2 separate regions of the Homo sapiens genome follow, and region 1 is linked to region 2. The links come from fine-mapping of genetic effects on gene expression. A gene starts in region 2. The other region holds a variant in brackets. All regions are shown on one strand. Distances are between the middles of the regions. Region 1 has its middle 20 kb from the start of RTP4. Region 2 holds the start of RTP4 (receptor transporter protein 4).

What was found. PIP is the estimated chance that this variant, and not a neighbour inherited with it, causes the effect.
Region 1: its variant is the best candidate, but not a certain one, in a credible set for the expression of RTP4 in substantia nigra (GTEx, PIP 0.72).

The regions. Positions count from the first base shown.
Region 1 is chr3:187,345,695-187,351,226 of GRCh38, forward strand. No RefSeq gene overlaps it. Among named protein-coding and RNA genes, the nearest start is that of RTP4, 20 kb to the right of the region's middle. The variant C/G (reference allele first, on the strand shown) is at 2,675.
Region 2 is chr3:187,365,728-187,370,727 of GRCh38, forward strand. It overlaps RTP4 (receptor transporter protein 4), which reads left to right and starts at 2,658. Exons shown (of 2, transcript NM_022147.3): 1 at 2,658-2,869. The coding sequence starts at 2,715. RefSeq lists an enhancer at 2,519-2,868.

The sequences.
Region 1 (5,532 bases), 20 kb before region 2:
TCCAGCAGAGATAAGTACTTGATATGTGATATAGGTCATAATGCAGAGCAGTAGAGAAAGGGTATTTTTTTTATCTAAGTAAAAGATACTAAGCTTGATCCCTATCTCACAACACGTGCAAAAACTAATTTCAAGAGATTTGAGACCTAAGTGTGACAGACTTAACAAAAAAATACATATTTTTATAAGATAAAATAGAAGAATTTCTATTTCCAGTAAATATTTATTTATTTATTTATTTGTTTGTTTGTTTGTTTGTTTATTTTTTTTTTCTTGAGGCAGAGTTTCACTCTTGTTTCCTAGGCTGGAGTGCAATGGTGAGATCTCAGCTTACCGCCACCTTCGCCTCCCGGGTTCAAGCAATTCTCCTGCCTCAGCATCCCGAGTAGTTGGGATTACAGGCATGTGCCACCACACCTGGCTAATTTTGTATTTTTAGTAGAGACAGAGTTTCTCCATGTTGGTCAGGCTGGTCTCGAACTCCTGATCTCTGGTGATCCACCCGCCTCGGCCTCCCAAAGTGCTGGGATTACAGGTGTGTGAGCCAGAGGGCCCGGCCTATAAAGTTAATTTAAAAAGACACGAAAAACACACATTTCTTTTCCATAAAAGAATGAGAAGTTTGAGTATATTAAAATGAAGAAATTTTGTTAATCAAAAGATATTATTGAGGGTGAAAAAACAAGCCATAGAGTGGGAGAAGATTTTTACAACAAGGGATTCGTATGAAGAAAATATAATTCAAAAAACAAATAAATAAGAAAATGGCTGACAACCCAAGAGTTACCAAGAATTTTGAACAGACATTGCACAAAAGAGAAAACTTAATGGGAAATTAACATGTGAAAAAGCACCGCTTTCATTAGTAATCTCAGGGATGCACAATTAGAACCACTGGAACGTATCACTATATAGTCACCAGAATCATTATCGTCAAAAAGACTAATCATGTATCACTGAGAATGTGAGCCAACAGAAACTCATACATGTCTGTGGGACTTATAAATAGATACAATCCCTTTGTACAATATTTGGCAAATCCCAAATTTGATGATACACAGTATGTGTATCATACAATACAATCTACTTATTGTTGTGTAATCAATGTAAATGTATGCACAAGAAATTTGTTTAAGAATATTCATGGCAGCACTATATGAAATAGCCCCAAAGTGGAAATAACCCAAATGGCAGACAATAGTGGAAGAGAAAAATAAATTAACATATATTTAAACCATGGAATAGTATAAAGCATCATCAACAACCCAAAAAGCTATAGCTCCCCAAAAGGCAAGTAAATCTTTAAAAGATAATACTGAGCAAAAGAAGTAAAACAACAAATTTATACTAAATAATTTTTATAGTGTAAATTTAATAAAGGCAAATCTAAACCTTGAAGTAAGGAATACACACTTTGGTGGATGATATATGAAGAAGAGAAAGGAGACAATTCCTATAAAAGTCACGAGAGTGGTTAATACTTGAGGGTAAGATTGAAAAGAACTGTTGGCTTTTAGAGTTCCATCATATTCTACATTCTGTTACTGGGCCTGGGTAGTGAACAGATGAGTCTTCTTTAAGTCACACATTTACGTTTTATGCATCTTTTTCTGTATGCTATATTTTGTAATCAAATATTTTATAACCAAACAAACCATAAAACCCAAATGTTTTCTTTCTATGGCTGGTTTATTTCACTTAGCATAATGTTCTCCATGTTCATCTATATTGTTGCAAATGACATATTTTTCTTGTTTTTTTTTTTTTTTTTTTTTTTTTCTGAGATGGAGGGAGTCTCACTCTGTCGCCCAGGCTGGAGTGCAGTGGCGCGATGTCAGCTCACTGCAACCTCCACCTCCTGGGTTTAAGCAATTCTCTGCATCAGCCTCCTGAGTATCTGGGATTACAGGTGGGTGACACCCTGCCCGGCTAATGTTTGTATTTTTAGTAGAGATGGGGTTTCACCATCTTGGCCAGGCTGGTCTTGAACTCCTGACTTTGTGATCCACCCGCCTTGGCCTCCCAAAGTGCTGGCATAACAGGCATGAGCCACCGTGCCCAGCCACAAAGGACAGGTTTTTCTAAGGCCAAATAGTATTCAGTGGATAGAGGTACAACAGTTTGTTTATCTTTTCATCCACTGATGGACACTTAGGGTGATTTCACATCTGACTATTGTGAATAATGCTGCAATGAACATGAGTGTGGAGTTATGTCTTTGACATACTGATTTCATTTCCTTTGGATATATAGCCAGTAGTGGGATCATATGTAGTTCTATTTTGAGAAACACCTCCACTGTTTTCCATAATGATTATAGTAATTTATATTCCCACTAACAGTGTACAAGTATTCCCTTTTCTCCACATCTCACCAACACTTGTTATCTTTTGTCTTTTTGATATAAACCATTTAAACAAGTGTGAGGTAATATCTTATTGTAGTTTTAATTTGCATTTTCCTGATGATTAGTGATGTTGAACATTTTTTTTCATATACCTGTTGGCTATTTGAATGTCTTCTTTTGAGAAATATCTATTTATGTCCTTTGTTCATTTTTAAATTGGGTTTCTTTCGTCCTATTGAATTGTTTGAGTTCTTTATATATTCTGGCTATTAACCTCTTATCAGTTACATAGTTTGGAAATATTTCCCCCCATTCTAGAGTTGGTCT[C/G]TTTACTCTGTTGTTTCCTTTGGTATGTGTAAGCTTTTTAGTTTGATGCAATTTCATTTGTCCACTTTTGCTTTTGTTGCCTGTGCTTTTAGAGTCACATCCAAAAGATTTTTGCTGAAGCCGATGACAAGCAGCTTTTATCCTACTTTTTTTCTAGAAGTTTTATAGTTTTAGGGCTGATATTTAAGTCCTTACTCCATTTTCAGTTGACTTTTATATATAGGATAAAATAAGGGTCCAAATTCATTTTTCTGCATGTGGATATTCAGTTTTCCCAACACTGTTTATTGAAGAGACTATTTCCCAATTGTGTGTGGAATCTAAAAAAAGTTGAACCCATAGAAGCAGAGAATAGAATGGCGATTACTAGAGGCTGGGGCAGCAGGAGTGGGGTGGTGAAGGGGAGATGTTGGTCAAAGGGTGCCAAGTTTCAATTAGATGGAAGGTGTCAATTCTGGAGATCAGTTGTACAGCCTAGTGACTATATTTAATAATAATGTACTGTATACTTGAAAATTGTGAAGTTCTCACCATAAAAAATAAGCATGTCACATGATGGATATGTTCATTAGCTTGATTTAATCACTCCACAATGTACACGTATATAAAAAAATCACATTTTGCCTCATAAAAGCATATAATAAAATAAATAGGCTGGGCGTGGAGGCTCATGCCTGTAATCCTAGCACTTTGGGAGGCCAAGGTGGGCGGTTCACGAGGTCAAGAGATCGCCATCCTGGCCAACATGGTGAAACACCATTTCTACTAAAAATAACAAAAATTAGCTGGGCATGGTGGCACGTGCCTGCAGTCCCAGCTACTTGGGAGGCTGAGGCAGGAGGATCATTTGAACCTGGGAGGCGGAGGTTGCAGCGAGCTGAGATCACGCCACTGCACTGCAGCCTGGTGACAGAGCGAGACTCCGTCTAGAAACAACAACAACAAAAACAAACATAAATGAATAAACACACATGTAAAAACATTTCAAAAATAAATTTTGAGGCCAGGAGTAAAAATGGAAAAAGATAATATTTTCTATTTGATTTAAAACATCAAGACCATATTTGTCATAAACTTATATGCACTTTAAACAATGTATTGCTAGATATAGAAAGCACAGTTCTTAGATATAAGAATAAAATTTGACTCACTAGAATTAAATAATTTTTATTCATTCCAATTTTTCTGTACAAAAAAGAGTTTTTAAACACCTTGTCTTTAAATTTAATTGACCAAATAGACCAAAAATAGAATATTAATGAGTTTAGTCACATAATTAATAGGATGAATTTACTAGATAATCTAGCATATGGTACCTTATAAAGAATGTATATTATATGCCCATAGAAGCAGGAAAAAAAATGTGTACTGCATTCTAGGACTATCACACAATCAAGCTAGATCCACATAAATGCTAGATCAAAACTGAGACCTACTGAAAAAAACAAAAACTAAACAAGTAAAATCTCAAATTTCTTTAAAAAATTGTAAATCAAATCAAAACTATATTCTGAGATATAAAAATCAACAAAAATAAGAACAGTATACAGCAAAAGTATGGGCTGGTACTAAGCATAAGCACTATTCATACATTTAAATTCAAAAGGCCCAAAATAACAACCAGGCCTTCAATTCAATACAGAAAAGTTAACAAAATAAGCCATATAGATGCATATATAAAATTATACAATTAATTAAATAAAAGCATAAATTAATGACTCTGAATGCTAAAAATGAAAAAATACAATTAATGGATAAAAGGGGCGATTCTTCAAAAAGATAAATAAAATACGCAGGTCCAGCCTGGTGCAGTGGCTCACGTCTGTAATCCCAGCACTTTGGGAGGCCGAGGCGGGCAGATTACCTGAGATCAGGAGTTCAAGACCAGCCTGGCCAACATGGTGAAACTCTGTCTCTACTAAAAAAACAAAAATTAGCAGGGCGTGGTGGCACACACCTGTAATCCCAGCTACTCGGGAGGCTGAGGCAGGAGAATTGCTTGAGCCTGGGAGACGGAGGTTGCAGTGAACTGAGATCATGCCACTGCACTCTAGCCCGGCTGACACAGCAAGACTCTGTCTCAAAAAAAAAAAAAAAAAAAAAAAAAAAAGGCAAGTCCTTTGGAATTTGGGCCTTGAATGAAGGGAGAAAATAAAAATATAAAGCATTAGAAATGAGGAAAGTATAACTAGATGAAAATCTAAACAAAATACAGAATTCTTTAGGAAAATTAGAAAACCAAAACTGACTCCAGACAAGGCTCTCCACCCCTCCCCACCCTGTGTATGTGGGTGTAGGGGTGGCAGTGGGAGAGGCTGTGGTTCTCCAGAACCTTCCAGTTGCCTGGAAAGTTCTGTTAGGAGGATCCCACTTTGTCCGCAGAGCTCATGTCCTTCAGGCCATCTTTGCAGGTAATAAAGGGTGTATGGTATTTTAATTTCCCCCAGGTCAGTGTCTATCTTTCAATGTGTTGTAAATAAAGGTGGAAGGAGGTATGCGTTATTTGCTTTCCAACATGTTCCAAGAATGCAAACAATATGAAAATCTGCCTACATCTTTTTATGGGGCTAGCATTGATATGTCTGATGCTAAAACTTGATGAGAGCACAAAACATAAACATATAGAAAATTCTAATTTATAAGTGGTAAATGAAATCATGTCAAAGTGACTTAAGAAAAAAAGGGAGCTGATTTGTTCATATTACCAAAAGATATGGCAGAATGTTCTTCGGCATGCTGGAAACAAGTACTTAAAGCTTCCCTTTGTACTGGTTTCATTCTCAAGCACATTTTCACCTGGCTGTGGCAAGCTGTCTAGGTACAAGCTGACATTCTATTAGCTTGGTACTCCAGCAGAA
Region 2 (5,000 bases):
CATGACCTCGGCTAACTGCAACCTCTGCCTCCTGGGTTCAGGCAATTCCCCTGCCCTGGCCTCCCAAGTAGCTGGGATTACAGGCATGCGCCATCATGCCTGGCTGACTTTGTAATTTTTAAAGTAGAGATGGGGTTTCATCATGTTGGTCAGGTGGTCTCAAACTCCTGACCTCAAGTGATCTACCCTCCTTGGCCTCCCGAAGTGCTGAGATCACAGGCGTGAGCCACGGTGCCCAGCCTCAGTTTTCTCGTGTATAAAAATTAAAGGGAAAAGGGATAAGTTGATTTCTAAGGGTTTTCCCAACTCTAACATCCTGTGGATCCAATTACAAGTTCTTAGAGCTTCCTATATCATGTGTATAGACACAGGTATCCAGGAAGGGAAGGAAAGAGAGAGGGTGTCTCTGAGTCGCTGACAGGGCACATGGAAGCCTAGAAAACCCAGGAAGACTGAGGCTGATCCTGTCTCAGACACAGAAGCTGTAGCGGGTGTTCTAAAGACCTAAGTAAGCATCCTGCTTGTCCTATCTCCCCTATTTGAATTTAAGCCCCAGGAGGACAAAGCTTACTCTCTGGAATCTCCGCGTTTTAGACTTACAAGTGTCTTTAAAGGTCATCTCATCTCAATCCCTTACCCCAAAATGGGAATTCTCTGTATCCTACCACTGAAAGACGGCCCCCACACCTGTGCGTATTTGCCCTTCCACATAATTTACAGAGTGGAGGGCAGAGTTTGATAATCCCTTCATGCAGCTGACCTCCTGCCTCAGGACCCAGGAAATCTCCCTACGGTTCCTCTGACACTGGCTCCAGTGTGCCAGCCTGGAACCTGAAATGCCATTCTCAGCTTCTCTTCAGGGAGTGAGGTGGGCGGACACATGGCAGGTTTTGGAGTCACACAGACCCGGGTTCAAGTCTCACTTCCACTGCTCGTTAACTGAGGGGATTTGGACAAAGTACCCCAGCTTTCTGTGCAGTTAACCTGCAAAACTCCAAGAATAATCCTTCGCGGGACTGGTGAGGATACATGGGGTGTAGGAGATGAGCATTAAACACGTGCTCCCCTACGCTGCTCCTAACCTCCCTGTCTCCACCTGGGTGTGAGCATCTGTGGGGGCAGGAATTGTTTCTTAGCTACAGGATACTCTTTTCCCAGTGCCAAAAACAGTGCTTTTGTGTCCGGAATTGGTGGGTTCTTGGTCTCACTGACTTCAAAAATGAAGCCACCGACCCTCATGGTGAGTGTTACAGCTCATAAAGGCACAGTGCCCAGAGTTTGTTCCTTCTGATGTTCGGATGTGTTCTGAGTTTCTTCCTTCTGGTGGGTTTATTGTCTTGCTGGCTCAAGAGTGAAGCTGCAGACCTTCCGGGTGAGTGTTAACAGCTGATAAAGGCAGAGCAGACCCAAACACTGCGCAGCAGCAAGATTCATTGCAAAAACCAAAAGAACAAATCTTCCACCACGTGGAAGGGGACCCGAGCCGGTTGTCAGTGCTGGCTGGGGCAGCCTGCTTTTATTCTCTTATCTGGCCCCACCCACATCCTGCAGATTGGTCCATTTTACAGAGAGCCAATTGGTCTGTTTTACAGAGAGCTGATTGGTCCGTTTTGACAGGGTGCTGATTGGTGCATCCACAAACCCTGAGCTAGACACAGGGTGCTGATTGGTGCATTTACAAACCTTGAGCTAGATACAGAGTGCCCATTGGTGTATTCACAATCCCTTAGCTAGACATAAAGGTTCTCCAAGTCCCCACTAGACTCAGGAGCCCAGCTGGCTTCACCCAGTGGATCCCGCCCCGGGGGCAGCAGGTGGAGCTGCCTGCCAGTCCTGCGTGTGTGCCCGCACTTCTCTGCCCTTGGGCGGTCGATGGGACCAGGCACCATGGAGCAGGGGGTGGCACTCGTCGGGGAGGCTTGGGCCATGCAGGAGCCCAGGGTGGGGAGACTCAGGCATGGCGGGCTGCAGGTCCCGAGCCCTGCCCCACAGAGAGGCAGCTAAGGCCCAGCGAGAAATCGAGCTCAGTGCCGGTGGGCCGGCACTGCTGGGGGACCTGGCGCACCCTCCGCAGCTGCTGGCCCAGGTGCTAAGCACTTCACTGCCCAGGGCTGGGGGCCTGCCGGCCGCTCCGAGTGCAGGGCCCGCCAAGCCCACGCCCACCCAGAACTCTAGCTGGCCTGCAAGCCCTGCATGCAGCCCCGGTTCCTGCCCGTGCCTCTCCCTCCACATCTCCCAGCAGGCTGAGGGAGCCGGTTCTGGCTTTGGCCTACCCAGGAAGGGGCTCCCACAGTGCAGTGGCTGGCTGAAGGGCTCCTCCAGCGCGGCCAGAGTGGGCACCGAGGCCGAGGAGGCTCCGAGAGCGAGCGAGGGCTGCGAGGGCTACCAGCATGCTGTCACCTCTCACTTTGCCTATTATAAAAAATGAGAGAGAGAAAATAAAAGCGAATTTATATGTGACCCCAGAATCTAGAACAGAGCTCTTTATCTCTCTCTCAGCAAGGCCTATTAACTAACACAGTTTTGCTGCTGTCTGTTTTCAGAACAAAGACTTGTTCTGTGTACTCAGACAGTCTAAAATGAAGGTTGAAAAAAACAGCTCATGTCCATACACAGAAACAGAAACTGAACCGAACACCGAAACTGAAACTGTTTGTCTCTTCCTGAGAAACGAGCAAACCTGAAAGCTACTCTCTCAGCTTCAGAGGGAAAAAATGGTTGTAGATTTCTGGACTTGGGAGCAGACATTTCAAGAACTAATCCAAGAGGCAAAACCCCGGGCCACATGGACGCTGAAGTTGGATGGCAACCTTCAGCTAGACTGCCTGGCTCAAGGGTGGAAGCAATACCAACAGAGAGCATTTGGCTGGTGAGTGTGGGTTTCCCAGGCAATAGCTCTTCTGAGAAGAGAGGCTCAGGCTCAGCTTAGCATGATTTATTCCTCTGAGAGCTTGTTGAAGGAGTAAATGTCACCAGGGCCTCCATCCTATTGTGGTCATAGTACTCTTTAGGGTCGACATGATAAGACGACTCCAAACCTCCATTTTGTTTAACTGCTGGAAGTTTCTTCTTTTACTAGGTTTCCCTCCGTAAATATTTCTGGAAAACCCTGGAGAAGGCTCCCTATTCCATAAATTTTCCCTTCTAGTTTCTCACCACGTCATTTGTTCCAGACTACCTCTAGAGTCTTTTGCAGTCTCCCCAGCAGTCCTGACCAGCTTCCCCCAGCTGCACCAGCTCTCCAAGCCTTGGCACTGTTCAGTACAAGCCTGGGACGGAGCCTTTTTTTTTTTTTTAAATATCTTAAGAATTGGCTAAGATCAAGCAGTTACTCTGAACATTGCTTTACTGAAGGCCTGGGGATAATAGTATAGAATGATGTTGCAAAAACTAAATCTAAAACCCAGTTCATGGAGTCACCAAGTAATACTCCTCCCTTACTCACCACTTCCCTCTTTAACCCCCAGCAAGCCTCCAGGTTGCAGGAACCAGTTTCCTTGACCATGTTAGGAGGGTGAGAATTGCTGACCTGGATAATCAAATTTATTTTTAAATGACACACAGGACCTTCGGTATAGTTTTCATCTGACCTATTACTCAGCTTGCCTGCCTGCCCCATCCTGCCTCAGGTATGGCCTACTCCATTCCTTATGGACTATTAGCTATGCCATGCATCTTCAGACTTCCACACTCTTGTTCATGGAGTTCTGCTTGTTCAGCAGACCCTCCCCTCACCCCTCCCTGCTCATCCTTCAAGGCCCACTCTAGTGCCTCCTCCTCCTAAAAGCATTCTCTGGTTCTCCTAGGCAGAGTAAGTATTCCTTCGTATACATTCCCATAAGATAATGGGATAAGATAAAATATATATGTATATGTATACATAAATGATATATAATTATATATACATATGTACTATGTATTTCAGAATAATAAATTTATAAATAATATATGTATTATTATATATTGTATCAAATACAGTATATGCTTATTTTTAGCTGCAGAATCTGTTGTTTAAATAAAGCCTCCTAAACGTCTCCAGAACAGTTCTCAAGTCACTTGTCAGAGCCCGTATAGCAGTCATGTTGCTCTGCTTTCTAATCCAGGGAAATGTGTAAATATTTCTGTCCACACCAGCCAGAGCTTTTTGAGGGACTCATGATGTCTTACAACGTTTTGGCACTCCTCCAAACAGAAAGAAGGTGTTTCTCCTGTTGGGATGATTTGATTTGATTGTCATTTCGAGATCGGAAAAGCAACCTACCAGTGTACTTTTGGAAAATATCAATCAGCTTTTGAAAAGCATTTTGTAGTTTACAAAGTGTTTTCACATACATCGTCTCTTTTGATGCTGCCAATATAACCCTTGAATTTTTTTTTTATGGATTCAAACAATGAGGGTTATAGAAGGGAAGGGCTTTGCCCAAGGTCTTCCTGATGTAAACTGGATCTTCAACCCAGGTATGAGGGATGCAGTCTGTTTCTCCAGGTGTGAGAGATTAGCTACACTACTCACCAGAGGCAACGTGTTACAGCAGGTAAATGAGTTGAATTTCAGATGGCCTGAGATTAGCAGCATGCCTCTAACATTTACCCTGTGTGTCCTTAAGCAGGTTGCGTATCCTTTTCATGATTCAGTTTCCTTATCTGGATATTGGGTTTAATAGTGCTTACTTCACAGATGAAATGGGATAAAATTATAAAGACCAATTATATTGTATGCATCAAAATAGATACTTTACCAAAGCTTTCTATGACCAAAATTAGGAATAAGTTTCTCTGGAAGATGGCAGACATGATTTTCCCTCAGAGGCATCTGGAGATGTTTTACTAGCAAAGAGGTAGACTTGGGTGTAACATATGGGTGGATACTCAGTAGGTCACAGGAAAAAGCCTTATCTGAAACATAGTCCTTCTTGTTCCTGTTTATCAATGACTGGGACAATCTAAATCACATGCATTTTTTCAAATGGAAAAGGATGTTAGTGACAGGGGCCAAGACC